Regions from separate parts of the Homo sapiens genome. Here region 2 is linked to region 1. Evidence: fine-mapped expression QTL. A gene starts in region 1. The other region holds a variant in brackets. All regions are shown on one strand. Distances are from middle to middle. Region 1 holds the start of JADE1 (jade family PHD finger 1). Region 2 has its middle 90 kb from the start of LINC03140.

The links. PIP is the estimated chance that this variant, and not a neighbour inherited with it, causes the effect.
Region 2: its variant is fine-mapped to the expression of JADE1 in thyroid (GTEx, PIP above 0.99).

What each region holds. Positions count from the first base shown.
Region 1 is chr4:128,803,804-128,819,178 of GRCh38, reverse strand. It overlaps JADE1 (jade family PHD finger 1), which reads right to left and starts at 9,479. Exons shown (of 11, transcript NM_199320.4): 1 at 9,302-9,479. RefSeq lists enhancers at 1-73, 5,060-5,641, 5,642-6,223, 8,967-9,076 and silencers at 6,667-7,236, 7,417-7,516, 7,637-7,916, 8,547-8,666, 9,177-9,656.
Region 2 is chr4:128,652,678-128,668,052 of GRCh38, reverse strand. No RefSeq gene overlaps it. Among named protein-coding and RNA genes, the nearest start is that of LINC03140, 90 kb to the right of the region's middle. RefSeq lists an enhancer at 14,992-15,375. The variant G/A (reference allele first, on the strand shown) is at 7,654.

The DNA.
Region 1 (15,375 bases):
TGCATTTTCAGGTTCCTAGAAGGGAGCTCAGCCACCAGCAGAAACAATCAAGTAGCTGCTGTGTCTTACTATAAATCTGGGGAGGCCAGGGAGTGATGGCCAAAGTGGGCAGAACCTTTGAGCTCAGGAGTTCGAGAACAAAGAAACATAGCAAACCCCATCTCTACAAAAAATACAAAAAACTAGCCAGGCCTGGTGTGGGATGCCTGCAGTCCCAGCTACTGGGGAGGCTGAGATGGGAGGATCAAGTGAGCCCTGGAATTTACACCACTGCACTCCAGCCTGGACAACAGGGTGAGACCCTGTCTCAAATCAATCAATCAACCAATCAGGGGTCAACAGCCTGTTTCTGTATGGTTTTTGAGCTAAGAGTGATTTTCACATATTGAAATGGTTGAGGGTAGAGGGCCAAAGAACATTTCATGACATACAAAATTCATAAAAATTTTACATTTCTATATCCATAAATATCACTTTCACATTCATTTTGCCCATGGTTGCTCTGGCACAACTGCAGACTTGAGCAGTTGCGACAGACCATATGACCCACAAAACCTAAAATATTGACTACCTGGCTCTTTACAGAGAAAGGCAACTGATCTGTCCTATAAATCAACCGATCAGTAGTATGATGTTTATAAACCACCATTATGCGTGTTTAGTTCAATGTGAATCAATTACCAGGTGCTGGACAAGCAACCGAAAGCTTACAAAATTAAGGATCAGACACAATCACTCCTTAGGAAGTCCCTAACTATGGCCGGCCATGGTGGCTCACGTTTCTAATCCCACCACTTGGGGAGGCTGAGGCGGGTGCATCACCTGAGGTCAAGAGTTCGAGACCAGCCTGGCCAACATGGTGAAACCTCGTCTCTACTAAAAATACAAAAATTAGCAGGGCATGGTGGCACACGCCTGTAATCCCAGCTACTCGGGAGGCTGAGGCAGGAGAATTGCTTGAACCCAGGAGACAGACGTTGCAGTGAGCCCAGATCATGCCACTGCACTCCATCCTGCATAACAGAGCAAGACTCTATCTCAAAAAAAAAAAAGAAGTCCCTAACTAGAATAATCAAAAGGAAGGCATTGAGGAGACCTCTAAGCAACTTAAATAAAGGCCACAGTAAAACCAGTGGGTTTTTCTCAAAAGAAAACCCCTGAGGCTCCTACTTGGAGCCAGTGTACACAAGTTTTAAAAACTTCTAACAGGCTTCTTATTTGATTTTCAAGTTAATGACCAATAAGCAGAAAAATCACTGTTCTCAACAGGCATTTTAACTACAATACATGGTAACAGTGGCAGTAAAAGGATCACAGAGAAATCATAAAAAGAAGTCACCAGAATTTAAACACTTAAACTAGAATCCAAGGATGTGCTTAAGGAAACACCCATGTTTTCTGGGGGAGAGCTTCCATGGGTTTCAGTGTCAAGTGTCCCCAACTTAAAAAGTTACAACCACCAACACTCAGCCTCTATATGTTAAGTGCATCATGGCATTTCCACATGGAAGTAACTGATGCTCGTAAAGATTATGACAAAGAGTAATCAATAAAAAATTTAAATTGCATTTAGTGTACTTTGTGCTAAATTAAAGCAAGCCATGAAGTTCAACCTCAAGCAACTTGCTAATAACATTGCTATTTCTTGTTCCTTACCCTGGTTTAAGTGGGAAACAAACAAACAAAAAGATTATTTTATGCCTCAGTGTGGACCCACACCACTGAAATCTTCACTTAAAGTAAGTCCTTATAAACTCTCATGGAAGATGCCATGAATTCTCAAAATAATAAAATCTCCTGCACAGGAGACACTAAATGATCAATAGTTTAAAATATTACTTCCACCAGCCACACAGGTGCACACTTGTAATCGCAGTTAGGAAGCCAGGGCGGGAGGACTCAGCTCTGGAGTTCAAGACTAGCCTGGGCAACCTGAGCAACATAGTGAAACCTCATCTCTCTAACAAAAAATACAAAGAGACAGATGTCAATTGTGAGCGCTTTCAAAGTAATAGAAAACTGGCCAGTCATGGTGGTTCACACCTGTAATCTAGCACTTTGGGAGGCCGAGGTAGGTGGGTCACTTGAGGTCAGGAGTTTGAGACCAGCCTGGCCAACATGGTAAAACCCCGTCTCTACTAAAAATACAAAAATTAGACAGACACGGCGGCATGCGCCTGTGATCCCAGCTACTCCGGAGGCTGACTCACTTGAACCCACTGCAGTGAGCCGAGATCCCACCACTGCACTCCACCCTGGGTGACAGAGCAAGAACTTGTCTCAAAAAAAAAAAAAGAGAGAGAAAATGTAGTTTACTTCCCTCAACAAGTAAGCCCAAAAAAATCTAAGGTTTTAAAAATTAACTTTCTTCAACTGCTCTCTATCACATTATGTCCTACCTCTACCTGAAGAACTAAAGGCAAAAAGTAAATACTGAATTCGTTTTAGAGTAACCAAAATTTGGTCACTGAACATTTACTGTGTGCACATCGTACACTATGGGTCTAAGGGATTAAACGTAAAAATACATGGCCCCTTTCCTAGTGATAAAGGCTTTCCAGTCCAAGTCTGGTAATCTTTATGTTTGTGCTTTGAGGTGAGGAAAGGATCCTTAATAATCATTCAAGTCCTGGGCTAGGAAAGGCCCCATCATAGCCAAAGTTTTTAGCATCAATTTCTTCCATTCTATTCCATGACACCCAACCTTAAACTTACAAATTGTCACTTCTATGTGTAATTAAAAAGGCCCTCCAAGGTCATTTTCTTGCATTTATTAGGAGAGCAGAGTAACTTGCTTCATCAGGGCTATGAACTGCAAAAAAAGAAAAAATAAAAATAATGCATACACCCTCATGATCACAAACCAAAGTTTTCATATGAGAAATACACTAGGCAAAGGACAATAGACTCAATAGACTCAACTAAATCTCAACTTCTGAGATATTACATTCCACAAACATAAAAAGAATTGTCCAGATTGTAAATACATGGTCATATAAAGTGCTGCAAGGACTTGAAAACGGAGAAAACAGATTTAAGACTTTTAAGGAAACAACTTACCTGTCTCAGGAATTAAAATACTTTCCTAATTTAAGATTGCTGATACCTTCTAAGAAACCAGAAACTCCAAGCAAACCCACCCTTCATGTTTAAAAAAAAAAAAAAAGTATTGTTGAATATGGTGCCAATTCTCTAAAGGCTTGTACAAGGGAGGAAATAAGTTTAAACGTGACGTAACTTTCACCGTTTTAACAATCAAGCTAAACCTCTTAATGCCAACCCAAATAAAAAGCAAGGTGTGTTCGCTAATATGTCATATTTCCCTCTATAACTGTTTTATAAACCTCACAGGAAAACCAGTTTTATAATGCAAATTCTGACAGACCATTAACTGTAATGCTGTAACAGGTGCCCCATAATACTAAATGACAGGGAAGAGCTTCACAAACAAGAAAGTAAAGCAGCAAGCAGAACTGTGACAGATTCCTATGCCTCCTCTTCTCTGACCAAACCCTAAAGAGACAGGATGTAATCTGTATTTGATATCTTGATGTTTACTGTTCCAACCACCTCAGTACTGAAACACAAACATCTGATAAATCTTTTTCCAACAAGTCTGTGGAAAGTAACATCAAGCAAGCAGATGATCTCCAAATTTAAGATTTCCAAATTACAATAAATACCATTTGGATTTCCTGCTTTTTTAAAATCCAGGCAACTTTATTTCCAAAGGCTTGCCTCCTCAGTGTCAGATATTCTGTCAAAAAGTTACTTAAGATTGCCGGGCACGGTGGCTCACGCCTGTAACCCCAGAACTTTGGGAGGCTGAGGCGGGCGGATCACGAGGTCAGGAGATCGAGACCATCCTGGCTAACACGGTGAAACCCCGTCTTAATAAAAATACAAAAAAATTAGCTGGGCATGGTGGCGGGTGCCTGTAGTCCCAGCTACTCTGGAGGCTGAGGCAGGAGAATGGCGTGAACCCGCGAGGCGGAGCTTACAGGGAGGCGGAGCTTACAGGGAGGCGGAGCTTACAGGGAGGCGGAGCTTACAGGGAGCCGAGATCGCACCCCTGCACTCCAGCCTGGGTGACAGAGCAAGCCTCCGTCTCAAAAAAAAAAAAAAAAAGTTACTTAAGATTAAAATCGACTTAAGGGAAACAACCAAATGCAATAAATGGTCCTTTATTAGGCAGTGGTTTAGACAAAGCTTCTCTATTACAGTCTGGGGCTAAATGGGGAAATCTGGACATGTTACAGTAATAGATTATATTAAAACTAACCAAGCTAGCTGACAGAAAAAAAAAAGGTCCTCAGAGCTGGGTGCGGTGGCTCACGCCTGTAATCCCAGCACTTTGGGAGGCCGAGGCAGGTGGATCACCTGAGGTCAGGAGTTCAAGACCAGCCTGACAAACATGGTGAAAACCCGTCTCTACTAAAAATACAAAAAATTAGCTGGGCGTGGTGGCGGGAGCCTGTAATCCCAGCTACTCAGGAGGCTGAGGCAGGAGAATCGCTTGAACCTGGGAGGCATAGGTTGCAGTGAGATCCCACCATTGCACTCCAGCCTGGGCAACATGAGCAAAACTTCATCTCAAAAAAAAAAAAAAAAGAAAAAATCCTTACAGATGGTATATTCATGTATCTCATTTTTATTAAAACACACATGCACATGCATAGAAAATTATCTGAAAAGTAATACAGTAGTCATCTATGGATGGTAGCAATTTGTTTTTATATTTGTTTCCTTGTATTTTCTAATTTTCAAAAACGTACATGTAACACTACTTGTGTAATAACTTTTTAACAGCTAAAGTCAAAAATTAATATCGGTCACGTGCCTACTATACGTAAGACGCAATGGAAATCTGCTTTTACTCTCACCTAGTCCTCCAAGTTTGTTTTTTAGGTCATCTTTCTTCTCCAACCCCCTAGGCTAAGCAACAAAACACATTTCCTCAAACTCCAATAGGTTTTCTCCCTCTAGTTTCACCCAGACACACATACTTTTCATTGCTGTCCCTGTATAGCTACTCTTTCAACCTGGATAACTAATATAAGCACAGCACTGGTTTACAGGCAGAAAACCAGTCAAGTGAAGCGGGGAGAACTAAGAAGGTGGGTTTTTTTTTTTTCTTTTAAATGAACACATATCTACCTTTGTTAAAGCTAAAATATATGTGCAGCCAACCCAACTTTTACTAGTAAGCAGTCTGTACTCTTAAAGGTGGAATCAAGTTCAAGTTCTACCTTACTTTCAGACACTCCCATTATCTCTGCTAAATAGGGACCAAAGGAAATAGCAGGAAACCTAACACTTAAACAGCTTAAAATTATATTTATTCTACACATTAAAATGACAATGCCAAGTAAAAGACACTTATAGAAGTATCCAAACTTTGAAGAAGACAGCAAAATACCAAGCAGAAAGTCATCTGATTTACAAGTGACCGTAAGCAGGCTGGGCGTGGTGGCTCACGCCTGTAATCCCAGCACTTTGAGAGGCCGGGGCGGGCGGATCACGAGGTCAGGAGTTCGAGACCAGCCTGGCTAATATGGTGAAACCCCGTCTCTACTAAAAATACAAAAAAAAATTAGCCAGCCGTGGTGGCACGCGCCTGTAGTCCCAGCTACTCAGGGGGCTGAGGCAGGAGAATCGCTTGAACCCAGGAGGCGGAGGTTGCAGTGAGCTAAGATCATGCCACTGCACTCCAGCCTGGGTGACAGAGCGAAAGACTCTGTCTCAAGGAACAAAAAAAAAAAAAAAAAAAAGTGACCGTAAGTAAATGAGACTAAGATCTTTGGGATAAAAGGACAATAAAAATTCTGGGTTGCATGTACTTGCTAAGAGTGTTACTCACAAAACATCCCATTTAACTCCCCCCACGTATGTTGCCCACCTACAACAAATTATTACATCAAAAGTGTTGACTCAATGCAAGTATGGACATATTGAATGCTTCCTTTCTCCACCTTTCTCCACCTGTGATTAAATCTTGATCAGTTGTGATATGATCAAAATGCAACTTACTATAAAATCTGTAACCACTGGGGAGTCACTACCTAAATCAGCTTTCAGGGAAATAATTTCCCTCTATCTTAAAACTAGTTCATTAGCTTTGAAAGGTATTAGCCTTGAGCTACAAGTAGCAAGAGAGCTAGCCTTCATGGCGGGTATTATAAAAAGGAAAAATAGTTCACCTAATAAAAAACCTTTGGGAAAGAACCCCCTAAGCATTCCCATTAATGGAAACCTCAGATCCTCTCCTACTTTCCTAAAAACGTAGCTGTCTCAGGTCATTCACTGCAGCTGTCATTTTACAAAAGAAAATTTAAATTCCCTCTTGGCCGGGGCAAATAGAGGGCGACAGCCCCTCGCCCCTGCCGAAGTAAGGCAGGGCGCCAGCCCTCTCGTTACTAGAAGGCAAGCTAAAGCTCCTTTTAAACGGTCTCCGGATGACGACGCATTCCTAACGGGTTTCGAAGGCATGTTTAAATCGCCCGCTTTTTTGTTTGCTCTCAGCATTCACCGGCGCCGGGACTGCGGCCGCCCCCACCCGCTTGGGGTGGGAAACCTGGGGCCAGCGGAGCCTGGCGCGGGAGGAATCCTGGGGCGAGGGGAGACCCGGGACGCGCCAAGCCGGGGTTGAGGACTCGAGAATAAGGAGCTCTAGTGGGAGGGTGGCGGAGTGAGAGGGGACGTGAGAAGGCTAAGGATCCCAGCAAGGGGGGCACCCCGGGGTTGTGGGGGAGCTCGGCCGCCGCCCCGCAGCGGCGAACGCTCCGCGCGGCTCCCGCCGCCCGCCGGGGAATGCGCAGGGCCGCGGTTCCGCGCGGCGCCGACCCCTCCCTCTCTCCCAATCCTCCTCCTCCTCCTCCTCCCGAGGCGACAGAAACAACAGCGCGGGAGGAGGGGAAAGTAACTCCCGGCACCTCCGCCGGAATTAGCCCCGGTGCAGTGATGACACCTTCTCGTGGCGCAACCAAGCCCCGCTCCCTCCGCAGCGGCGTCCCCGCCGCCGCCGCCCTCTCCATTTGAAAGTGGCCACCCCCCGCCGCGGCAGCTCCTCCCGCCCCGCCGCCGCCAGCTGCACCAATCCGCTCGGCCCCAGTTGCAAATCAAACGCTCCCTCGCGTCCAGAAGCCACTTGCGCCGCTGGAAACGGCCGCGCCGTCCCCCTCCCCGAGTCCCTCCGGGGCGGCACCTTCGGGCTGGGGCGGGCGCGCCGGCGAGAAACGGTTTTAAGATGGGAGCGGCAGCGGCGGCGAGGAGCTCCGAGCGGGCTCGGCTCCCGCTCCCGCTCCCGCCCCCAGACAGTTCTGGAAACTGTGTATCACCTCTGTCACAGGAAGCCATCCGGCGAGGAAGGCGGCGCGGAACCAACAAACAAACGCCTGCGGCCGCCCGCCGGAACCGGCGCGGGGACCGCGTCGGGCTTCGGGCCGTTCCCGGGGCGGGGGCGCAGCGGCCACCCCCGCGCCGCGGGCTTTGTGCGGGGCGGGCGCGGCGGGCCGGGCGTCCCCGCCCCCGCAACCCCCCACCCCGGCCCGGGCGGCGCAGCTGGGACCGTTAGGTGACGCTCCGGCCGCAGCGGAGAAGCAGCGCCTCGGCCGCCGCCCGCCCCCATTTCCACACTGGGCCGCCTCTCCTCAAACACCAGAGGCGGGCTACAAAAGTTGGCCCCGGGGCCACCCAGCACCTGCCCACGTGCCGCGGAGGCTCGCTCCCGAGTCTCCCCCGGTTCCCTCCCCCGCCGCCCTCGGCCGCCAGGTCACCTATTACCGGTGGGAGGGGAGAGAGGCTGCTATTTAAACGCCCGCGGAAGTTGAGGCACCCCCACTGGCGGGTGCCGTGCACCTGCCTCCCGCCGCCGCGCTCCGCCACTTTGAGCAGCAGCCGCGTCCTCAGCCCCGCCTCCTGCCCGAAGGCGGGCGGGGGGGAGCGGGAAGGAGGTGGAAGGGATCGAATTTCTCCAGCAAATGGGACCGTTCCGACAGGATTCGGTTCCCCGGTCAACATTCCACATTCCATCCCTCTCCCGCATTTGCAAGCCAATGCCGAGCAACCCGGAAAGCCTGCTGGCTACCGAACAACAGCCCCCAACTCGCAAACACAGACTCACAGGCACAAGACACGTGCACTGAAGGGCTCTGCAACTTGCAGTCCCGGGGTACACACTACACGTTCATTTAAGGAAGCAAGGAGACCAAGAGACCCCACCCCCACAATTTGCAGATGGTGCCAAAGGTTGCAATTTGCAATCCCCTTTAAGTTCACGATTAATCGGTACTTTGCTCTACCAACGCCAACTCCTACCCCATTTCATCGATTAAGGGGTTTTACACTTTACAAGCAGTCGCGCTGTAAGTAAAAGATCTGATCACTGGAAGCCCAGTTCGGAAGAATCTAATTGCCAAACTGTCCCTCCACCCCCACCCCCACCCCCCTCTCACTGCCCTTGAATTGATGCAATGAATATTTTGGACATGTGGTGACGCGGTGACAAGAGCCAGGGCTGCGGCCACCACACACAGATGTACCTACGCACACCTATGTTTGGACAAATACAGTCCCACCACACACACGGTCTCACACACTCTGGATTCATATATGTACGCGAACCTGCGTTCTGCCATTGCCATCTGTCTACCAAGTTGCTACTATGCTTTCCACTTTCATGCAGCCTAATGCACTTTGGCTTTCTAAAAAAAAAAAAAAAAAAAAAAAACCTATAAACTAAAGCCAACTTAAACTGGGCTTCTGCTCCTAAACGCGTTTAATTGATGATTCACCTGAAAACCGCATGTTCTTCGCAAATCCAAAAGAAGAAATAGCTCTAAGTCTTCAGCCCCCCAAATTTGAAAAAAAAAATCATAATAAAACTTACTGATCCAACATAGATCAATTCTCAGGATCCAAAAATCATCCTCTCCTCCTCCTCCGGCCCCCGCCCCGGCAATGCCCAAGTTACTGGTGGGATAGTAACGCTGCGCTCAGCGGCTGCCTCCCTCCCTCCTCGCTACAGATCGAGAACCCAATCTTTTGGCGCCATATTAATGACGTATTATATTATTTCCACTAGGCAGCGACCTTCGGCATTAAATTACTCCCGAGAACTCCCGAGCAAAGCAACAAAACCATCAAATATGGCTGAGCCTCTCGGCTCGTCCTGCAGCCGCCGCCGCCGCCGCCGCCGTCGCCGCCGCGGGACCGGGACGCGCACACGGACCCACACGCGGACACGCGCGGACACACGCGCGGCGCGCCCACCCCGCGCGCCCCCCGCGGCCCGCGCGCGTACCTGCTGCGGAGGGGTTCGGCCGAGGCGCTGGGCTGGGCGCCGCTCGCTCGCTCGGAGCTGCATGAGTTCGGGCCGCGGCGGGCGGGGAGCCGGGCGGGCCCCTGCTCTCGCCGGCGCGCACACACCGGGCACTCGCGCACGGAGGCACTCTCGGTCTGGCGTTTGGCTTGTTATGGAGGAAGGACTATGTGAATCAAACTCATTTCTGGGTCACTGCTGCCACAGGGGGGAGCACTTTAATCCCTTGCCAAAACGAGAGGGTGGGGACGGGAGGGCGGAGGGAGCATGCGGGGAGCCCGCGGCGCTGGGGCTCGGTCCCTCGTTAACTCTTCGCAGCCCTAGCCGCAGCCGGCTCAGCCTGCGCCAGTGGGGGCTCGCAAAGAACGGCACTGTTCAGCTCTTAGTCTCTTTCCTTACTTCACCCACCTTGTGAGCCTAGAAATTCTTGAGGTGTCTCCAAGCAAGTGGGTTTTTAAATTAGCCCCTTCAAACTGCTGTCCCAGTTTCAACTCTTGTCTGACATCTAGAAATGGATTCTTTCAGAATAGTTTAAAATTACGTAGATTAAAATATGGCTATTAAGATGTGTCATTTGGGTGAAAGGTTTTATTTTTAGGCTGAGTGGCAAAATAGTTGTTTGTAGTAACAGTTTTAGGGAGTTGCACATTAGGATGACATTTTTAAATAGAGAGAATCCAATTCTGAATAACATCTTTACCTAAATTTGTATGGAAGTGATCATTGCAAATGAGCATTAATTCATTAGAAGATATTATTTATAAATTGACACCACTTTATGTTACACATTACTACAGAATTGGACATCTTCTCCCAAATATGAGGAGTGAGCCTAATGCTAAAACTAGAATTGCAGACTAGTATCAGATCAGTCATCGGAGATTCATTTGGGGGTATTTATGTGTAAAAAGGAGTGGTTACTGATTTTCTGCAGAAGACAAGCTTGCTTTTTCATATAGAGGGCAACATACTTCTTTCATGGATTCATCTAGGGAAATAGAGGGGTATATGACATTCAACTTCAATAAGAAAAAAGTACGGATTAAAAACTCCCATTCAGGCCGGGCGCGGTGGCTCACGCCTGTAATCCCAGCACTTTGGGAGGCCTAGGTGGGCGGATCACCTGAGGTCGGGAGTTCAAGACCAGCCTGACCAACATGGATAAACCCTGTCTCTACTAAAAAATACAAAATTAGCCGGGCATGGTGGTACATGCCTGTAACCCCAGCTACTGGGGAGGCTGAGGCAGGAGAATCGCTTGAACCCGGGAGGTGGAGGTTGTGATGAGCCGATAATGCGCCATTGTGGTCCAGCCTGGGCAATAAGAGCGAAACTCCGTCTCAAATAAATAAATAAATAAATAGGAACAGTGATCACTAATTACAAAATTGAATATCGAACCCAAAAGGCATATGTGTCCACCGGAAGAATCTTTCTGAATATATCAGGTTTGATTTCATGTAATCCCACACCAGCCCAACTACCCACATCCAGACCCACATCCAGAACGTTATAATCTGATAAATGCGACAAAACAAAACTAATTGAGCCTTTCAGTTATTTTTCAGAAAACAAAGTAAGCCAGTGGAAATCCTAAGTACTGTATATGTCCTCTCCTGTTTCGCTAATGAAGAGTAGAAAGACTCCCTGCCAGTCCTATTCATGTGTTCACTTAATCCTGTTCAAAGCGATCACACATGTAAAGCACTGTGTTAACTATCATTATTACTATTCTTAGTATTGCACTTGTTATTGTTATTTTTACTGGTTCACCTCGCACATACTCTCTGTAGAAGTTAAAGTACACAGGCTTTGTAGCCAGACATGGCTGGATCTGGCTCTATCAGTTAGCAGTTTGTGTGCCTGTGGGATAAAAGAACTTTATCTGAGCCTCAGTTTCTTCCCTGGTAATAAAATTAAGTTAACAGCTGGCCCCTAACCTGAAGGGTTGTTAAGAGGAATCAGGCAACCTCATAACAGTTCAGGAGTAGAGGCCCTGGCAGTAGGAGGTTGTCCACTCCCTCGGCCATCACTCAACTCCTTCTTGGTTTTCTCTCCATCAAAAATTGCAACTTTTCTAAATTCCAAACAGCCTTACTTCACGCATTCATGTTAAGAAAATTTTTGTCGACCGGGCGCGGTGGCTCATGCCTGTAATCCCAGCACTTTGGGAGGCAGAGGCGGGCGGATCACGAGGTCAGGAGATCCAGACCATCCTGGCTAACACGGTGAAACCCCGTCTCTACTAAAAATACAAAAAATTAGCCGGGTGTGGTGGCGGGCGCCTGTAGTCCCAGCTGCTGGGGAGGCTGAGGCAGGAGAATGGCGTGAACCCGGCAGGAGGAGCTTGCAGTGTGCCGAGATCACGCCACTGCACTGTAGCCTGGGCGACAGAGCGAGACTCTGTCTCAAAAAAAAAATTTTTTTAACTCACATTTGCTGCTTACTCTTTTATTTGCTTTTTCTATCAAAAACATCAGGCACCAACGAAAGTATTGAATAAAATGGATGACAAAAATAAAGGGATAAAATGGCACACAAACTCCCCACACTGACACATTGAACATGAGTGAAGGTGCCATGTACAGAGTCTCAATTATGCCGTGGCTTCAGAATACTCATCCACTGAAACAGTGCTATGTGCTATAAATAGCCCTGGACAAGAAGTCAGGAGACTCCCACCAACTCCCAATATGACTCTTTGGGCTTTAGTTTCCCCACTGAGATGATAGGAAAAATAATGCCTAAGGCCCCTTTCTCTTTAACATTCAGTCATTTCTGATTTTCTTACCAAACTTAGAAACGTGATGATTATTTGAAGAAATGGCGGACAACTTGAATCCATAAGGAACATGTAAAAATATTTTGTCATCAATGATCAGCAGTTGGCATTTCTTAAATAATAGGTGTCTCTTGCCATCAGACCACAAAGGAAACTCCTATACAACCTATTTCTAAAATGGGAAAGGCAATGATATGGTTTGCCTTGCGGCAGCACAGATAATACAGCCTAGAATAAGAAGTACTAAGCTGGCAATTAGGAAAGCGAGTTTCTGATTCCACTCTGTCACTTACTGTCTTACCTTGCCAAATCATTCCGGATCATCATTTCCTAGTCTCTGGAATAGTTCTTTTTAATTCACACCTTATTATCAGAGATGAAAAGACATTCAACAAAATAGCTACAAGGTACTCAGTGTAATAGAAATATCAAGATTCTTGTCTTTCCTGTTCGTGGTGATAATTACAATTCTATATATCCTGTACATTCTGCTGTAGTCATAAACAGTTTAATTATTTTCTTCCATAATAATGGGTTTTTATGAAATAGAAATTTGGATATTTATATTCATATTCCTGATTTTGAAACCAGACTTGATTAAACCTCTGAATGTTTACTTAGTCATTTCATCTACTTCTCTGTAGGTAAAGAATTATAAGGCCTTGATAAGAGATTCAGAATTGTTCATATTTGAAATGAAGGGATGCATACACTAAAGTCCTGTATTATCTCATTCCTTTAGGGAAATGAGCAAGAAATTCTTACTGGCAAATACCACTGTCAGTTGGTATACATTCCAACGAGATAATTTTTTTTTTTTTCAAGATCAGGGTCTCACTCTGCCACCCAGGCTGGAGTTCAGTGGTCCCAACATGGCTCAGTGCAGCCTCCACCTCCAGGCCTCAAGCAATTCCCCCACCTCAGCCTCCAAAGTAGCTGGGAACACAGGCATGAACCACCACACCTGACTAATTTTTCATATTTTTTGTAGAGACAGGATTTCACCGTGTTTCCCAGACTGGTCTCAAACTCCTGAGCTCAAGCGATCCGCCCTCCTCGCTCTCCCAAAGTGCTGGGATAATAGGCGTGAGCCACTGCGCCTGCACCCAGAGAGAAGAATTTTTTTTTTTTTTACTGTAAAAGGGCAATCTTGGATAAAATGGGTTGTATCCTAAAAGTTTATTTGCATGTACTTTAATTTTTTTGGAATTTTGTGCCAAAAATGTCTTGTTACTAAAGAGGGCTTAGATTGTTGTTTTTAAAAATAATTCTAATAACTAAATGATAAAAAATAACTTTTTATTTTTCAACCAGGCGTGGTGGCTCACACCTGTATTCCCAGCACTTTGGGAGGCTGAGGCGGGTGGATCACTTGAGGTCAGGAGTTTGAGACCAGCCTGATCAATATAGTGAAAACCCATCTCTACTAAATATAAAAATTCGCTGGGCGCGGTGGCTCACGCCTGTAATCCCAGCACTTTGGGAGGCCAAGGCAGGCGGATCACAAGGTCAAGCGTTCAAGACCAGCCTGGCCAACATGGTGAAACCCCGTCTCTACTAAAAATACAAAAATTAGCTGGGCGTGGTGGTGCATACCTGTCATCCCAGCTACTTGGTAAGCTGAGGCAGAAGAATTGCTTGAACCCGGGAGGCGGAGTTTGCAGTGAGCTGAGATCTTGCCGCTCTACTCCAGCCTGGGTGACAGACCGAGACTCCATCTCAAAAAAAAAAGAAAAAAAAAAAAGAAATTACCCAGGCGTGGTGGCGCATGCCTGTAATCCCGGCTACTTGGGAAGCTGAGGCAGGAAAATCGCTTGACCCAGGAGGCGGAGGCTGCGGTGAGCCGAGATTGCACCATTGCACTGCAGCCTGGGCAATGAGAGCGAAACTCCATCTCAAAAAAATAATAATAATAACTTTTTATTAACTTTGTTGAGTAATATTGTATGAGGGAGGGATGTAGTTCAAAGAGGAATAAGGACATATAATTCTTTTTTGTTTTTTAACACCCCTTGTCCTAATGTATGGTACATATAATTCTGAACAAGAAAAGTTGAGAGCCACAGTCAACACCTATCTGAACTCCGTGACACAGGAGATGAAGGGTAAGAGATTAGGACTAGAATTCCTTGTCTGACCTGTTGGTGAAGTCACCAGTCCTTAACAACATTTTAGCTCCTCCAGGCAGGTCATTACAACCTCCAAATATATGGAATATTTGTTTCTTGTTGGTGTCAGTACCAACTAAATTACTTTCTTCTTGAGATTCTTTCTTCCCCTTCTTTTTGTTTTCCTTTGCTTGCTTTTCATTTTGGTTGTTTTAATTTTGTTGATTTCCATACTTTTAGTGAAAGTAAAAATGTCAAAGAGAAGTAAGTATGAAATGGGATAACAGGAGATAATTCCACCAGATGGAAATGACCAAAGCTGAGGAGGTTCAAAATAAGTAAAGCTCTTCCCTAATCATGAAAGGAATACATGATAATGAAATTTTGAAAATTTAGAAAAATGAAGTAATAAAACTCAACCATATGGATAACTATTATAAACATTGTCCATTTTTTGGTCTTTTTTCTATGCATTTTTCCTAAAATTGGAATGATGCGACACATTCCATTTTACATCCTTCCTTTTCACTTACATCTTTCAATTTTTCCATTTGGGTATTAAATACTTTTATGCAATGTTTGTGCATTTCAGGTCTTTGACCCCCTCTGTGTTATTATACCTTCCTCCACAGGTTACTTTGGCTATTCATTCTCATAGCTACTCTCCCTGGACCTTGTCAACTACTGGAAATTTCTGCCATCTTTATTATCAAACTCAAGTATCTCCCATTTTGACCACTACCTTTCAGATTTCCAAAGTCTATACATCCCACCTTACCCTTCTTTTTATCTGAAAGTCCTCTGATCTACCCCTCCAGCCTTTTCTTACCAACAACAGAACGGATGTAACTCATAAGGTCTCTAATCAGCAGCAGCAGCACCTGAGAACTTGTCAGAAATGCATTATTTCCAGCCCCACCCCAGACCTACTGAAACAGAAAGTGGGATCCGGCAATCTGTGTTTTAACAACCCTTCCTGGTAGTTCTGATCCACACTCAATCAGAAAAACACTTATGTAGGTCTCACTCCCACCTACCACCTCTAACCAACTGTTTTCTGAACTTTCTTGTCTAATGTTTCTTCATTCCTCAGACAAATGTGTTAAGCAATTAGTATGTCCCAGGCACAGGGCTGGCTAGGCACTGGAGACAAGGTAAAACAGGCA
Region 2 (15,375 bases), 150 kb after region 1:
TTATTTTTTAAAAAGTACTGACTTTGGTGTAAGACTTAAGTTCTAGGCCTGTTTCTGTCTCATGGTAACTACATGATCTTTGAAATTTTCTTAACCTCTCTGAGCTTTAGTATTTATCTCTATAAGGAACTCACTGCAAGCATTATATTAGGGTTAATGTCACTGCAAGGGTTAACTCATTGCAAGCGTTAATTCATGTATGTAAAGCACCCAGTTTAGTTCCTAACACAGGGAAGATACTAATAAATATTGACCATTTTCATTTTCTCCCTTCTTCACAATCTGTCTCATTTGGGATATTATCCTTTGGATATTGGTTGCTTTTAACTAAGGCCCTGTATAACAAAACTTTTCCAATAATATTTATTCATTTATTTATTTATCTATTTATTTATTTATTTTTTGAGACAGAGTCCTGCTCAGTCGCCCAGCCTGGAGTGCAGTAGTAGGATCTCCTCTCACTGCAAGCTCCACCTCCTGGGTTCAAGCCATTCTCCTGCCTCAGCCTCCCGAGTAGCTGGGACTACAGGTGTCCGCCACGACGCCAGGCTAATTTTTTTTGTGTTTTTAGTAGAGATGGGGTTTCACTGTGTTAGCCAGGATGGTCTCGATCTCCCGATCTCGTGATCTGCCTGCTGCGGCCTCCCAAAGTACTGGGATTACAGGCGCTAGCCACCGCACCCGGCCCAATTATTAATTGTTTATTTTTATTTTATTTATTTATTTATTTTTTGAGACGAAGTCTCACTCTGTTGCCCAAGCCAGAGTGCAGTGGTGCAATCTCAGCTCACTGCAACCTCCACCTCCTGGGTTCAAGTGATTATCCTGCCTCAGACTCCAGAGTAGCTGGGACTACAGGCACACACCACCACGCCTGGCTAATTTTTGCATCTTTAGTAGAGACCAGGTCTTGCCATGTTGGCCAGGCTGGTCTCGAACTTCTGACCTCAAGTGATCAGCCCGCCTCGGCCTCTAAAAGTGCTGGGATTACAGGCATGAGCCACCATGCCCAGCCAAAACTTTTTCAATAATTTTTATGAACTTTCCACTTCTCACCAAGTATATGAGCGTGGGGAGGGCTGGGAAATCTAGAAACTGCTCTTTAATTAGTTTGGGGCTGGTATTGACAGCACATTTCCCAACTTCCATTTTCTATCCCATGCTTCCTGCTTGTCATGTACTCTGTTCCTTTACACATCCCTAGAATTCAAGAATGGAAGAAGCACTTGTCAGGAAAACCATTTTTTCTTACCTCCAACATTGGAGAGTTTTGGCTTCCAAAATGAGAATTTCTGCCTTCCAGAATTATTGTAAAGTTTACCTATGCCCTTTCTTATAATCCCCTTCTTCATTTTTTCCCAAATGCTATGGTCCAAACGAGTCTAAAACTCTAAACCCTGTTAAAGTCCTGACCCTAAGGCAATGATATTAGGAGATGGGACCTTTGGGAAGGTGATTAGGTCATGAGGGCAAAGCCCACATGAATGAGATTAATGCTCTTATTAGAATAGGCTCAAGGGACTTCTTTTTTTCACCCCTTCCACCATGTGATGGCTCAGCCAGAAGTCACCATCTGTAGACCAGCAAACGGGCCTTTACCAAACACCGAGTCTGCTAGTGCCTTGATCTTGGACTTCCCAGCCTCCAGAACAGTGTGAAATGAATTTCCGTTGTTTATAAGCAACCCAATTTAATGGTATTTTGTTATAGCAGCCTGAGCAGGCTAAGACACCACAAGATAAGGAGAGACTAATCTGATTGGTGATATAGAAAAGTACTGAAATAGCTCAGCTCCTCTGGGCTTTCTCTTTAGGGCTGCCTGCCTACAAGCCAAGCTGCCCCTTAGCTCCAGCTTCCATGTGGTATCCCATATGGTCTGGTGGGTCACACAGTGAGAAGCAGAATATCTACCTCCATTCAGCTGCCTGAGTGTGTGCTTGGCAGATCCAATGTGGCTCTTTCTATGGGTCTCAAGAAATCGACTTCAGGCAAAGGAGAAAGGCCTTGATTTCAGCCATAGACCTATTCTCCCTTTCAGCATTTTTCAGCAAGAAAGCAGATATTTGGATCTCAATGGACTCTTGTGACTATTTCTCATTTGGCACCTCAGAGATCTCAACACCTCAGAGATCTCAACTAGTGTGAACAGGATTTAGTATGACCTCATCTCTTCTATTCCTTCTCACTAGTGTATAGTTATTGTGGGCATATTATTAGAGGAGGACTTTAACCATGAAGTACCCGCAGTCCAACCTCCCTCATTCTCCCAAGGAGAATGATGCTTGGAAGATATCGAGTCACCCATACTCACATGAGTAGTCAGTGTCAGAACCAAGGCTTGGAACAAACCCAGGTACTCTGACTCCTGGTCCAGAATTCTTGCCAGAGTGTTATGTTGCCTCTTCTTGGCTAAGTAGAATTCAAAGCAGATATGTGCTGGTGGACAAAATTCTCTGGACTCTCACCTTGGGTTCTGGCTCTCTCCTAGGTTTCCATTCTGAGTTTGATGTGGATCCAGTTATTACTAGCTTCTGGTCCTCTTATCCCACCTGGGTGTGAAAACTGCATGCACTACACATCTAGGTATCCCCAACTTGTCTGCAGGCCCCAGGAGAACTGAAGTGTCATAAAATATGATTCTTGAGCCTTCTAACTCAAAACCATCTTGTTGGAAGTAAGGCTGTATAAGTTTTGTATAAAGCATGTAGGGTCAGTTCTAACAGTCCAGAAATTTTATAACATCAGTGTATTTTCTAGGTCTAAGCTCTGTGGACTTGTCTTATTCTTCTTCTTCTTTTTTTTTTTTTTTTTAGTGTTTTCTTTTCTTTTCTTTCCAGCTCTTTTTTTTTTTTTTTTTTTTTTGAAGTGGAGTTTCACTCTTGTCACCCAGGCTGGAGTGCAATGGCACGATCTCGGCTCACTGCAACCTCCGTCTTCCGAGTTCAAGAGATTCTCCTGCCTCAGCCTCTCGAGTAGCTGTGATTACAGGTGCCCACGACCACGCCTGGTTAATTTTTGTATTTTTAGTAGAGACAGGGTTTCACTGTGTTGGCCAGGCTGGTCTCAAACTCCTTACCTCAGGTGATTCATCCACCTCAGCCTTCCAAAGTGCTGGGATTACAGGCGTGAGCCACTGCACCCAGATTTTTCTTAGTGTTTAATGTCATAAAGTCTAGAACTCCCTAGAATGACAAATGTGCTGTGGCAAATGATATTTCACATCAGTCATTTTGACTTATTATTTCCAAATGAAGCAGGATTGTCATGAGAAATACATATCACTGTACAATGGGTATAACCATAGTTGAATACACTGCAAATCTAAAATCACGTGTTTTTCAACCACTCTAACAAAGGTAAAGGGGTAGAATCATTGGGAAAGTATCCCTTATGTAACTCACAGGTAAGTTGTATCTCTACTTTCAGGTCCTGACAACATATGCTTGATCCCAGCTTATTGGACAGCATGAATAGAGCTGGGACCTCTGTTGTCTGAAAGGGAGGGAAGACCCAGGAACCATGAGCAGGAGAGGTGACTGGTTTCTGGAAGGCCCAGGTGATAGGGACTTCCAGAGTGTGCGGGTGGGCATGGGTGTGCTTGGTGGTGAGCAGAACATGAAGGTGGGGCACATGGCAGGGCTCTGTGCTTCCTTTCATGCCTTGGCTTCCTGGAAGGTCTTAACTGGCAATAGCCATCTTCAAAGAGAAGTGGCTGCTGCAGCCCTAGTGCAGTGAGACCCGAGACAGAGCCTTCAGTCCACCAGCCTGAACGACTGATATTTAAATGTCCTAATTAGAGATTTGTTTCTTTATGAGGATGGTATATTTTGAAAACATTAAACTATTTTATTTGTAATCCCCCTCGTCTCCCATTATCATCCCCAGCAGCTTAATGGACCAGACAAATGCTACCTTTTAAAAAGGAGTTATAACCTGAGAAAAGCCTCTATCAGGTAGAAAGGGGCAGGGGAAAAAGGTCCTTTTGTCTCGGAAAACTATGAAAATTAAGCAGTTAGCATGGATGTTCTGATCTGACCTTCTGGGACAAAATCCTGGAGGAAAGAGCAATGAGATGGGTTGAGGAGAAATCCAAAAGCGGAGAGAGTTTATACTCCACTCTTCTAACCAGGAAATCCATGATTCCTGTAGCTCATTAGCAGGCAAGCTGTATCTCCCACTGTAACTGCTGGAGGAGACCACCACGCTTGGTGGCTCCACTGGACCAAGAAGCCTCATGAGCAGAATAAAAATGGTGGCACAGCACAGTCTCCAACTGGAGAAGACTAAGTTGGCATTCCTAAGCTTCCTTCAGCAGCCTGAACACCCAAAGTGCCCAGGAGTTCCTGCCAGTTCTGGGGCTGCAGAACGTAGATAATGAGGCTGGCCTGAGTTTGCCATGAGAGAAGGAAAGAGACTTGGGCATAGGGCTGCAGGGCACGCCACCTAGGCTAGGGAAGTGACTGACACTCAGGTGTCACAAAGTCAGTGCCTCAGGCCTGACCAAGCTAAGATTGAAACAGGTTATCTGGCAGTTTGCCCGCAAATACAGCTGCTACCATTTCCTCTTCTACCTAGATGTATGAAGACAAGGAGTCTGTTTTCCTTCCCCTTGAATCTGGCTGACACTGCACCTTGTTTTGACCAAAAGATTGTGGCAGAAGTGATGTTATGTTGGTTTGAGGACATAGCCTGGCAGATTTTACTTTTGTTCTCTTGGAAGCCAGTTACTGTGATGTGAAGAAACAGGTTACACTCCTGAATGGTAAGAGGATGTGAGGAAAAAGACCCTGGAGGGGTCCAGCTTGGATGTTCTAGCCCCAGGCAAGCTCCCAGCTGAATACAGCCATATGAGTGACATCCACTCCATCTTGTGGAACAGAAAATTTGCCCAGCAGAGCCCAGTCAATCCACAAAATCATGAGATGTAATTGTTTTCATTGTCAAAATGATCGTTTAACCCACTAAGTTTTGAGGTGGTTAGTTATGTAGCGTAAAGTAATTATAATAAACAAAAATTCATCTGTCACAGATTTCATCAGTGGGATCCAGCCCAACCAGAAATAAGCCCATCGCAGTAGTAGAAACCAGCAAGGATCCAGAGAACAAACAACCGTTGAGTCTGAGGCCCTCTCTCCTCTACCTTCATGTACCCATGCACTATTTTGAGAAGGAGCAGCAGGAGGGGAAGAAAGAAGTTAGAAAAGCTGGTGTGGTAGGCAGAGTCATGACCTCCAAATATGTCCACATCCTAATACCTATAACCTGTGAAAAATTACCATACGGGATAAAGGGCAATTAAAATTGCTGATGGAAAGCCAAGCACAGTGACTCTTGCCTGTAATCCCACTGTGGGAGGCTGAAGTGGGAGGATCTCTTAAGCCCAGGAGTTTAGGATCAGCCTGGGCAACATGGTGAAACCCTGTCTCTACAAAAAATTAGCCAGGTACCACTGTACTCCAGCCTGGGTGATACAAAGAGACCCTGTCTCAAAAAAAAAAAAAAAAAAAAAAGGTAATTGATGGAGTTAAGATTGCTAATCAGCTGACTTTAAAATAAGGAGACTAACCTGGATTGTCCGGGTAGACTCAGTATAATCACAAGAGTCCTTAAATGTGGAAGAGTCCGTTCAGAGAGGAGAGATGTGAGAACTCTACACACTGTTGCTGGTTTTGAAGATGCAGGAAAGGACCATAAACCAAGGAATATGAGGGGCCTCTGGAATCTGGACAGTGCACAGAAATGGATTATCCCCTAGAGCCTCCAGAAAGAGACATAGCCCTGCTGACATCTGATTTTAGCCTAAAGAGACCCATTTTGGACTTCTGAACTATAGAAGGATAAGATAATAAATTCATGTTGTTTCAAGCCACTAAGTATGTGTGCTTTTTTGTTTTTGTTTTTGTTTTTTTTTTGCAACAACAGAAAACTAAAAGAGGTAAATTGTAAGTGATTAGATGATTGCTCCAATTAAGACTATCTTAAGATAGAAAAGACTGAGATGGCTTTAAATAGCAATTTTAGGAGTTTTTCTTCATAGCACCCAGTGTGGGAAGGCCAGAGAGTTAAGATTAGATCTTTCATGGGAAACAAAAATTTACTTTTTTGATTTTCACACTCTTGAGTATAGTGAGTTAAATTTGGGACCTGTTGGACATTTGTTCTGAAACTTGATTTTCTGTTAAAACAAACTGTCCTTGGAAGAGTCACACATTAAACTTTTCAGAATGAATGAGTTTATCTGATTGCTTCTGAACACGGGGCTTGAGTGAGGGGAGAATGGAGGAAATAGTCAAGCCTTGAGCATCCAGATTCCTGGGGTGGGGAGGAGTGGGGAGGAGGTAACGAGGCCAGGTAATTCCCAACTCCAAGGATGTGGCAGACATCATTGCTGTCCTTGAGCAGAGCTGTTATCAGTCCCACACAACGCCTCTCTTTACGAACAGTCTCAGAGGCACCATAAACTCTGCATCATGTGGCACTGAGTGCAGGTAGGAGTTCATTATGCCCAACAGCGAGACCAATCGCTTCATGTTACCTAGGGCCCTCACATTCTCATTGTTTTTTTCCACTGCATTTCAGATACCTGTGGTTTCAGCCCTGTAATTGGAACATCACATTTCATCATTGGTCTCTGGTTCTCCAAAGTAAAGGCTTTTTGAACCAAAAGTTAAAATATCAGCTTCCCGTGATCATTATCATCAATTATTATTCTTCACTCTTGAGGTGATACTTAACCATACAATGTTAGAAACACCATTGAATAAGTACTAATGAAATACTTCATAATAATACCACATCATTATTGTAATGATTACCAGGGATTTGTCATTCCTAAGACACACAAATATTTGGGGTATTTCAAGGCAACTACACAGGTCCTTGGATGCTCTTGAGTTCACTCTTAATTGTTTAGAATAGGGAGTGAGGGAGAAAGCTGGGGTAAGGAGGGGAGGGAAGCAAATCAGAGTTAGGTGATTGCTAAAGTCCCTGGGAGGCACAAGAGTGTGAGCTCAGGCATGAGACTACATAAACGCGGTCAAAGTCACTCTAACATTCTGTGACTCTGGGAGGTTACTTACCTCTCTGTCTATATAAGAAAAAAGGTGGGTGCAGTAAGAACAGTGCCTGCATCATAAGACTGATGTGATGATTACATAAGTTAATTCATATAAACACTCTGTTCTAAGTAGAAAGCCAATGCTTGATGAATATTAGTCATTTTTATACAGAACCCCAAAGTTGAGAAATCAACTCTTTCACAAGAACACAGATATTTTCCTCACTTACTGCATTTTACTAACTTCAAGATCAATGTTTCATTCACTTTGATTCCTTCCTCACGTGAGCTTGGTGTCCAGTTCCCTGCATATCTGGAGTCCTTGGAAACTTCTGAGAAGATTGATGCTGTTTCCAGGTTCCCTTATCAGGCCTCTGTTTCTGTTTCCCAACTGCTGCCTTTCCCCATGTGGTTCCAATACCAAAATATTTAGTCCATCTGTCCCAGAGGGTTTGGACTTTCTCTTCATTTGTGCTTCTTGAAATAATATGCTCCTGAGGCACAGACTGTTCCTTCATCACTAAAAAAGGTCAAGCATTTATTAGTCTGTGTATAAACATGACAACAAAGGAGTCCTTGTAAAAATGGAATGTTCA[G/A]CTTGGATAGAACACAGAGTAGTTCCTCTTGAATCTGGCAACTTCCCTTGGTTTTCATATCCTTTAAGTACACCATGTTAATATCACTGTTTCTTTCTTGAATTCCCAAGCCTTCCTTATAAATCCCCACGAACCCTTTGAGGTGCAAGTTTATTCATTTATAGAGCCTATAAGTACAATTTCTTTTTCAATTCAAACACATTAACAGGTTGTTCAGATAAACCAATTCTTTTTTTTTTTCTTTTTTTTGAGACAGGGTCTCACTCTGTCACCTAGGCTGGAGTACAGTGGCACGATCATGGCTGACTGCAGGCTTCACCTCCTGAGCTCAAGCAATCTTCCTGGCTCAGCCTCTTGAGTAGTTGGGACTACAGGCACGCACCACCACACCTGGCTATATATATATTTTTTATTTTTAGTAGAGACAAGGTCTCACTATGTGCCCCAGGCTAGTTTCAAACGTCTGATCTCCAGCGATCCTCCTGCCATGGCCCTCCAAAGTGCTGGGATTACAGGTGTAAGCCACCACACCCGACCCAGATAAACCAATTCTAATACTATGGATGGAAGGTGTACACTCCTGTGTGTTACACAACTACTTATCATAATAAAGGAAAATGACTTTGCTTTGCCACCAGCTGCCATTTCACACAGATGTGGCTCTGATCCCCTTGAGCAGCAACTCCTGGAAGCCCAAATTCTGGTTCATTTTCTTCTTGCTCTTCAGATGACACTAACCAAACACAGAGCTCTATCACCATGGTTTTCCCATTCCTCATGGAAGCCAACCACTGTCTGCATTAGCCTGTTCCCTTCTTAAGCCTGATCCTTTTAGACATTATATATCATCTATCTTTGTAAAACATAGCTTCTGTTTCAGAACTAGTAACACAGTCTGGGTTTAAAAAAGTTTTCATACTTCCATGTTGTCTCTATAAGCTGTTGTGAGACTTCAATGTACATAGGGCCCATTAAAACCAGTTTTTTCAATCCGCATTCCTTTTCATGCTAAGAATGTCTCAATATGGGAGCATTCTCTTTTTTTTTTTTTTTTTTTTTTTTGTCTTTTGAGACAGAGTCTCGCTCTGTCGCCAGGCTGGAGTGCAGTGGCATGGTCTTGGCTCACTGCAACCTACCAAAGTGCTGGGATTACAGGCATGAGTCACCGCGCCCGGCCAGGAGCATTCTACATGATCAATAGTGTTGTTGGTGTTCTTGTCCTTTTTATTTATTTATTTTTTTGAGAAGGAGTCTCGCTCTGTTGCCCAGGCGGGAGTGCAGTGGCACGATCTCGGCTCAGTGCAGCCTCCATCTCCCAGGTTCAGGTGATTCTCCTGCCTCAGTGCTCACTACCACCCCCGCTCCCCACCCCCCATCCAGTAGCTGCAATTACAGGTGCGCACCACCATGCCTAGCTAATTTTTGTATTTTGGAGATGGGGTTTCTCCATGTTGGTCAGACTGGTCTCAAACTCCTGGCCTCAGGTGATCCGCCCGCCTCGGCCTCCTAAAGTGCTGGGATTACAGGCATGAGCCACCGTACCCAGCCTGGTCTTCTTGTTCTTGTTCTTTTTGTTCTTGTTTTGGCTCTCTCTTCCTCCTTTTCCTGCCCCACTCCTCTTCTTCCCCCTTCTCTTCCCCCTTCTCCCCTCCTTCTCCCTTCTCCCCTCCTTCTCCCTTCTCCCCCTTCCCCTTTTCCTTCTCCCTGTTCTATTTTTCTTCTTCTTAACCTGACTTGCCTTTTTGTCCAGAGCTGGCCAGGAAAGCAATGAGGCTTGGAAAAAGATCCACAACATGTTGGCTCACTAAATACTTACTTTACCGCTATGAATTTCTCTGGTGTATGGCAGGAAGTCACGTGGTAGTATATTTTTAACTTGATGTCAACTTGTATTATTTTGTAAATACATAAGTGAATATCAGCCCTGAAATTTAGTGGCCTATCCTTCTCACAGGAAGTACAAAGTACATTTCATTCAAGTGAATGAAACAAACATCTGCTTTCAGGGCTGGCCCCAACTTACTTTTCTAGTTTCTTCAACCATATGCCCCTTGACTTCCCCAACACACACACGCGCACACACACCCCACCACTACACAGCACACACACACTGCTGTTGGCACATCATATTTTTCCCTTTCCTCTGAGCTTAGGACAGTTTTTGAGCTCCAATTAGGGGAATGAATGAATGAAATGAGCTGTGCAATCACGCCCTGCTTTTCTGGTCATCTTTTCCCTGCCTTTTGGACTATCTCCCTTCCCACTACCCCATTTTTATGGAGGAAGTTTCTATTCATCTTTCAAGGCCCAGTTTGCTGCTGTCTCTTCTTCAATCCTCACTCAGGATTACTCTCTTCTCCTCCTTCTACTTACAGGGTTTTCCTTCTTCAATATCACTCCTGCTCTGCCTTTGTTTGCCTTTTTTTGTTTGCTTTTCCTCTTCTCTCCTTACAGTAAAAGTTTCTTCATGGTAGAAAATGTCTTTTTCATTTCTGTATCTCCCAGTCGAGCACAATGGCTGCCATAAGATAAGCGCTGAGATGTTTAATGTCTACTGGTAATTGAGCTCAGAGAGGATGACTTTCAAATTCCAGGCATACAGTACAGTGGAAAGTGTCTAATACCCAAGAAACAGGATGCACAGTGGGAGTTTACATATGGGCACTCCAATGTAGATACCCTGTAGTCACTCGAATCTATGGGTCTGGAGCTGAGGCGAGATCAAGACTAGATATATAGAGTCAGGAGTTACCAGTGTAGCAGTGAGAATTAAAACCAGGGGAGTGGGTACAGAGTGAGAATTGAGGAGGGCTGAAGAAAGTCAACGTTTAAGGGTGGACAATGGATGGGACCCAGCAGTGGACTCTGAGAAGGAGTGGTTTGAGAGGTGAACAAAAAGAGAGTAAAGTCATACAAGCTAGGGGAGGAGTCAAGTTCAAGAAGGATGGTGGTGACTAGGGTTAACTGCTACAGTACTAGGGCAGCTGCTAGATAGAGGTGCAAGGTCAATATAGGCTTTTCAAAGGAGGGAAGTGTTGCTTTTCTTTCAAAGGTTCTTATTTTCAAGGTTGAATCAAATATTTGATAATTAAAACCTTAGGGGTCTAGGAGCTATAGGAACCAAACTCTCAGACAATTATAAACCTCATCAAATCTCACCAGGAAAACTATATTCTAATCTGGATTTCCCTGCTTCTCCCTATAAAAGGCATTACAGGAATATGACAGAAATTTTGTTCACAGCCTGTGACTACCTTAGAGTAATTGAGGATCTTTAAACCATATGTCCTCCGTAGCTGGTGAAGCCTTGTCTTCTTGTGGGGTCACTGGGAAAGGGTTCCTAAAGAAAGCCTTTGAGAGTGTGAAGAATATCATTAATCACCACTGAGCCTCCAAGAGTAAGAGAAAAGTAGCACTTAAAGGCAAAAGATGCCTCGAGATAGGCATTTTAATTTTTTGCCATGATAACAATCGTTATCACAATTTAATTTATATTTATTTGCATTTGCATTATTTAAATTGAAAGAAAATATGACCTTCTTTCTGAAATAGATTAAATTAGTATCAGTACAGAAATGACTACGTAATATTTTTCTTTTCTTATTTTATTTTTGGAGTAGAGAAGCAACCCATCTATCCATTCTTTCATCTGGTTTTTCATACACCTATCCATCTATCCATATATCTATCTGTCTGTCTGTCTCCCCAAATCATTTTAAGTCCCCCTTATGAGCTTTATGTATTCTGTAAGACCCTAAACCTGTAAAAACGAGCAGGACCAGATCAACATAGTCACCATTCATTATATATGAATTTGATCTAAAACATCATTCAAATTAAGTCAGGGATAAGGAGATCATTTAAAGATAAAACCTAAAGATATGCCTTAGGAGGCATCTCTGTACTTCTTCAGTGTACTAATGCTCGCTGGCATTATTGCTATCACTGATAAATGTCAAAGGGGAGAGTGATATTTTTGGAGTTGATTTTTTTACCCTATTACAAAAATAGATTATAAACACACATATGTCACAGAAAGAACTTAAGCTAATATTTCTATATAGGGACAAGCATTAGCATATTTTTAAAGTTCACAGTTACATTTCTGTTGTCAGTTATAATCGTCTCTTGGTTTGAACTCATTATTTTAAGATAGCTATCAAAAATCTATTGGTATAATGTAATCTGCTTAAATTTCACAAGTGTGTGAAAATTTTACAGTCAAAGAGTTCCTAAAGGAAGCTGTGTAATTCAATATTTTCATATAACCATCTTCATAAAGGCACAGAGCTGACTTAAACCAACAAAGGATAGTCCCTAATAACAACAACATAAAGCTATAATTGAACTCAAATTCATGAATATTTTATTTTTAGATAGTTATTTTCCACTCGGACATTAGTCTAAATCAGTATTTAGTTACAATTTACACTAAGCATATGCTTTGGAGGAAGACCATAGATAAAAAGCAAAGTATAAATGAGTCAAAGTTACCCATATCATCATGACACTCTACCACAGGTCCCTTTGCTCCTCTTAGAAGGCAGCTTAGTACCTCCAAGGTTGGAGAAGGCACTAGGTTTATCTGGATTTCTGCTCAGAGAAGTGAATGATACAATGTTTTACATGAGAATCTTGGAGAAAGCTAAGATTTCTCCAACCTTAGAGGGGATTCCCTTTCTAGAAGCCCCTTGCTTGCTGTGTTGGCAGTTGGAATGCCATATTATACAATATACTCGCTTTATTTAGTCAAGGAGACTGTTGAGGCAGTGTCAAACAGCAGGTACAAGAGCTGCAGGAGCTCTTATTATTCATCACAGTTTGGCAGCCTGATGGGTAAAGACAAGTATTGGTGGGATACTCAGGTCACAAACTTCTTTTTCCCACTGCACTTGCAGGGTATGCATTAGTCAGCTCTGCTACTGTAACAAGCAACCCCAAAATCTCAGTTACAACTACAAATACTTATCCTGGATCTGGAATAAAGAAGACAGGTGCATCAAAACTGGCTTTATGTCTTCTTCATTCCAGATCCAGGCTGAAAGAGCAGTCCATTTTGGGGTATGCCATTCCTATGACAGAGAGAAAACAGCAAGAGAGCTGGTGGAATACAATCACTCTTAAAGATTTGGCACAGATGAGGCATAGTCAAGGTCACCCACAAGGCCTAGTCACTCACGTGCCCAAGCCTGACATCAAAGGTGCAGAAATTGTAGACTCTCCCATAGGAGGTACTCCAAGAGAAGGAGAATAGGGTCTGGAGGCAGGGAACCTAAGGCTGATTTACCCTGACTTCCTAGAACTAAATCAAAAGGAAAAGCCTGACTTTCCACACCCAAGTAACAAAAGGATGAGAGGCTACTGCCTTTGCAACCCCCTTCCCCGCTTTTCCACATGGTAGATGAAAAATTGAAAGTACCTCTGATTGGTCCCCCCTCACAACCAATCAGACTGATCTTGGGCCAAGTCTTCGTTTGCATAGGAGTATAACTCTATAACTTCATTTCAGCCTCTGATTGGTCACTTTCCACAACCAATCAGACGTTTGCATAGGTTGCAACTTTGTAACTTAACTTCAGCCTCTGATTGATTGTTTTCCTTAACCAATTGGGCTGATCGTGGGCCACTACTTCATTTACACAGGATGTACACCAAATAACCAATGAAAAACCTCTAGAGGGTATTTAAATCCCAGAAAATTCTGTAACCAGAGCTCTTGAGCTGCTTGCTCGAGCCTGCTCCCACTCTGTGGAGTGTACTTTCATTTCAATAAATCTGTGCTTCTCTTTTGTTGCTTTGTTTGTGCATTTTTGTCCAATTCTTTGTTCAAAATGCCAAGAACCTGGATACCCTTCACCAGTCACACAAGTCTGTGTAATCTGTCAGAATGGGGAGTGAGTTGCTGGAAACAAAAACACAATCTATGTTCCTTGCTGCAGCCCCTACCCAGTTCTCCAGCCTATTCCTTCAAGCCCCTCCTCTTCAATGCCAGCTCAAGGAGGGTAGTTTGGAGAGCTCCATGGTGAAGGACTGTGCCCAAGAAGTGGGGCTGCAGCAGCTGTTGTTGCCATTCATCCCTGCTTTGTTCTCAGCGGCCTCTAAGTGCAGAAGGCGGAATAAATTGGCAAGAACTGAAGATGAGTTGGAAGGCAAACAAGAGAACTGAGAGCTTTCTCATTAACTAAAGGGGTCATTGAGATAATGCTTGAGGCAAGAGGCAGAGTGACCTTTAGGTACTTGGCTGGAGGGCTGTCCTGAGAGAATGGAATGAAGCTCACCCCTTAAAGCCATCATCCCCTTCAATTAATATTTACTGAGCACTACTAAGACACTGACCCTGTACTCAGAACTGTAAGCTTTCCTGGGTTGGAAAAGGCTCTGACTAATTTGCACATTAAAAAGCACACAGACAGAGGAACCCACCTTTTTTTCCCTTTCCCAGTCACCCTGGGAGAGACCGTCTTCTCTTCTTCATTCATGTGTGGAATCCCAATTAAGCGTAGTAAACAAAGGAAACTTCTTACATTGTGATTTTCCTCCCTCTTCCCTTGTTTTATTTGCAGTCTGGATTTATTGCTCAAGAATTACCTCCTTTAAGCATCATCCCCTATTAGCCAGAGAGATAAAAGCCATAAAGGGAAGGGAACTCCTTCAGTTCTCTTTGCCAGTTGTGAGACAGAGCAGCTGCGTTTACAAGGGGAGTTGACATCTGTTGACTGAGCCGAGCCTGTCCTGCCCCAGCACTGTGCTCATGCTTGGAATGCAAACTGCAGCTATCAGAGACAGCGCCGGGGTTTAATAACTGCTTGAGCCCAGAGCAAATCTACTTGGGCACTAGAAAAGAAATTGTATAGTTTTAAAGCAGATGTATGCTCTTAACGTGGTTGGCTTGTAAAGCAATAAAACTTGGGGTTTTTCCCCCCTTAGCCTATCACAACTCTTAGAATAAACAGTGTACTTAAGACAGGGCGATTCTATCACAATTCCATGTAATATTTAGTCCATATAACAAGATAAAATTTGAATTAGCATCACATATAGAAGGCATTTCATTTTCTCACATACAGTACAATATTAAGCGCAAACAACATATGTCTCCATGGTTATAAACAACAGCGTCATGTTTGCAAAACAGATCCTATATGTAGAACGTCTGTAAATGGGAGAAAATATGGGGCTTTTGTTGGTTAAAATGATGTTAAATATTTCAAGTCGCATGATCTTTATAAGAAACATTTTCAGGGGCCAGGCGCGGTGGCTCACGCCTGTAATCCCAGCACTTTGGGAGGCCGAGGCGGGTGGATCACGAGATCAGGAGATTGAGACCAGCCTGACCAACCCTGATGGGGTTTAGTAGTGAAACCCCATCTCTACTAAAAATACAAAAAACTAGCTGGGTATGGTGGTGCATGCCTGTAATTCCAGCTACTCGGGAAGCTGAGGCAGGAGAATCACTTGAACCCGGGAGGCAAGGGTTGCGGTAAGCCGAGGTCGCTCCACTGCATTCCAGCCTGGGCAACAAGAGCTCTTTCTCTGTGACCTTGAAAAAATCAACTGGTCTGAGCCTCCATTTCTTCACCTGCCAGAATAAGGATGTTGGGCTAGATCAAGGTTTCTTTAGGTGTATTGTGAGGAACATTATTTCTGAGGAAATTAATGGGAGTAATTTTTTAAAAATTATTTTTGGCTGGGCACGGTGGCTCATGCCTCTAATCCAAGCAC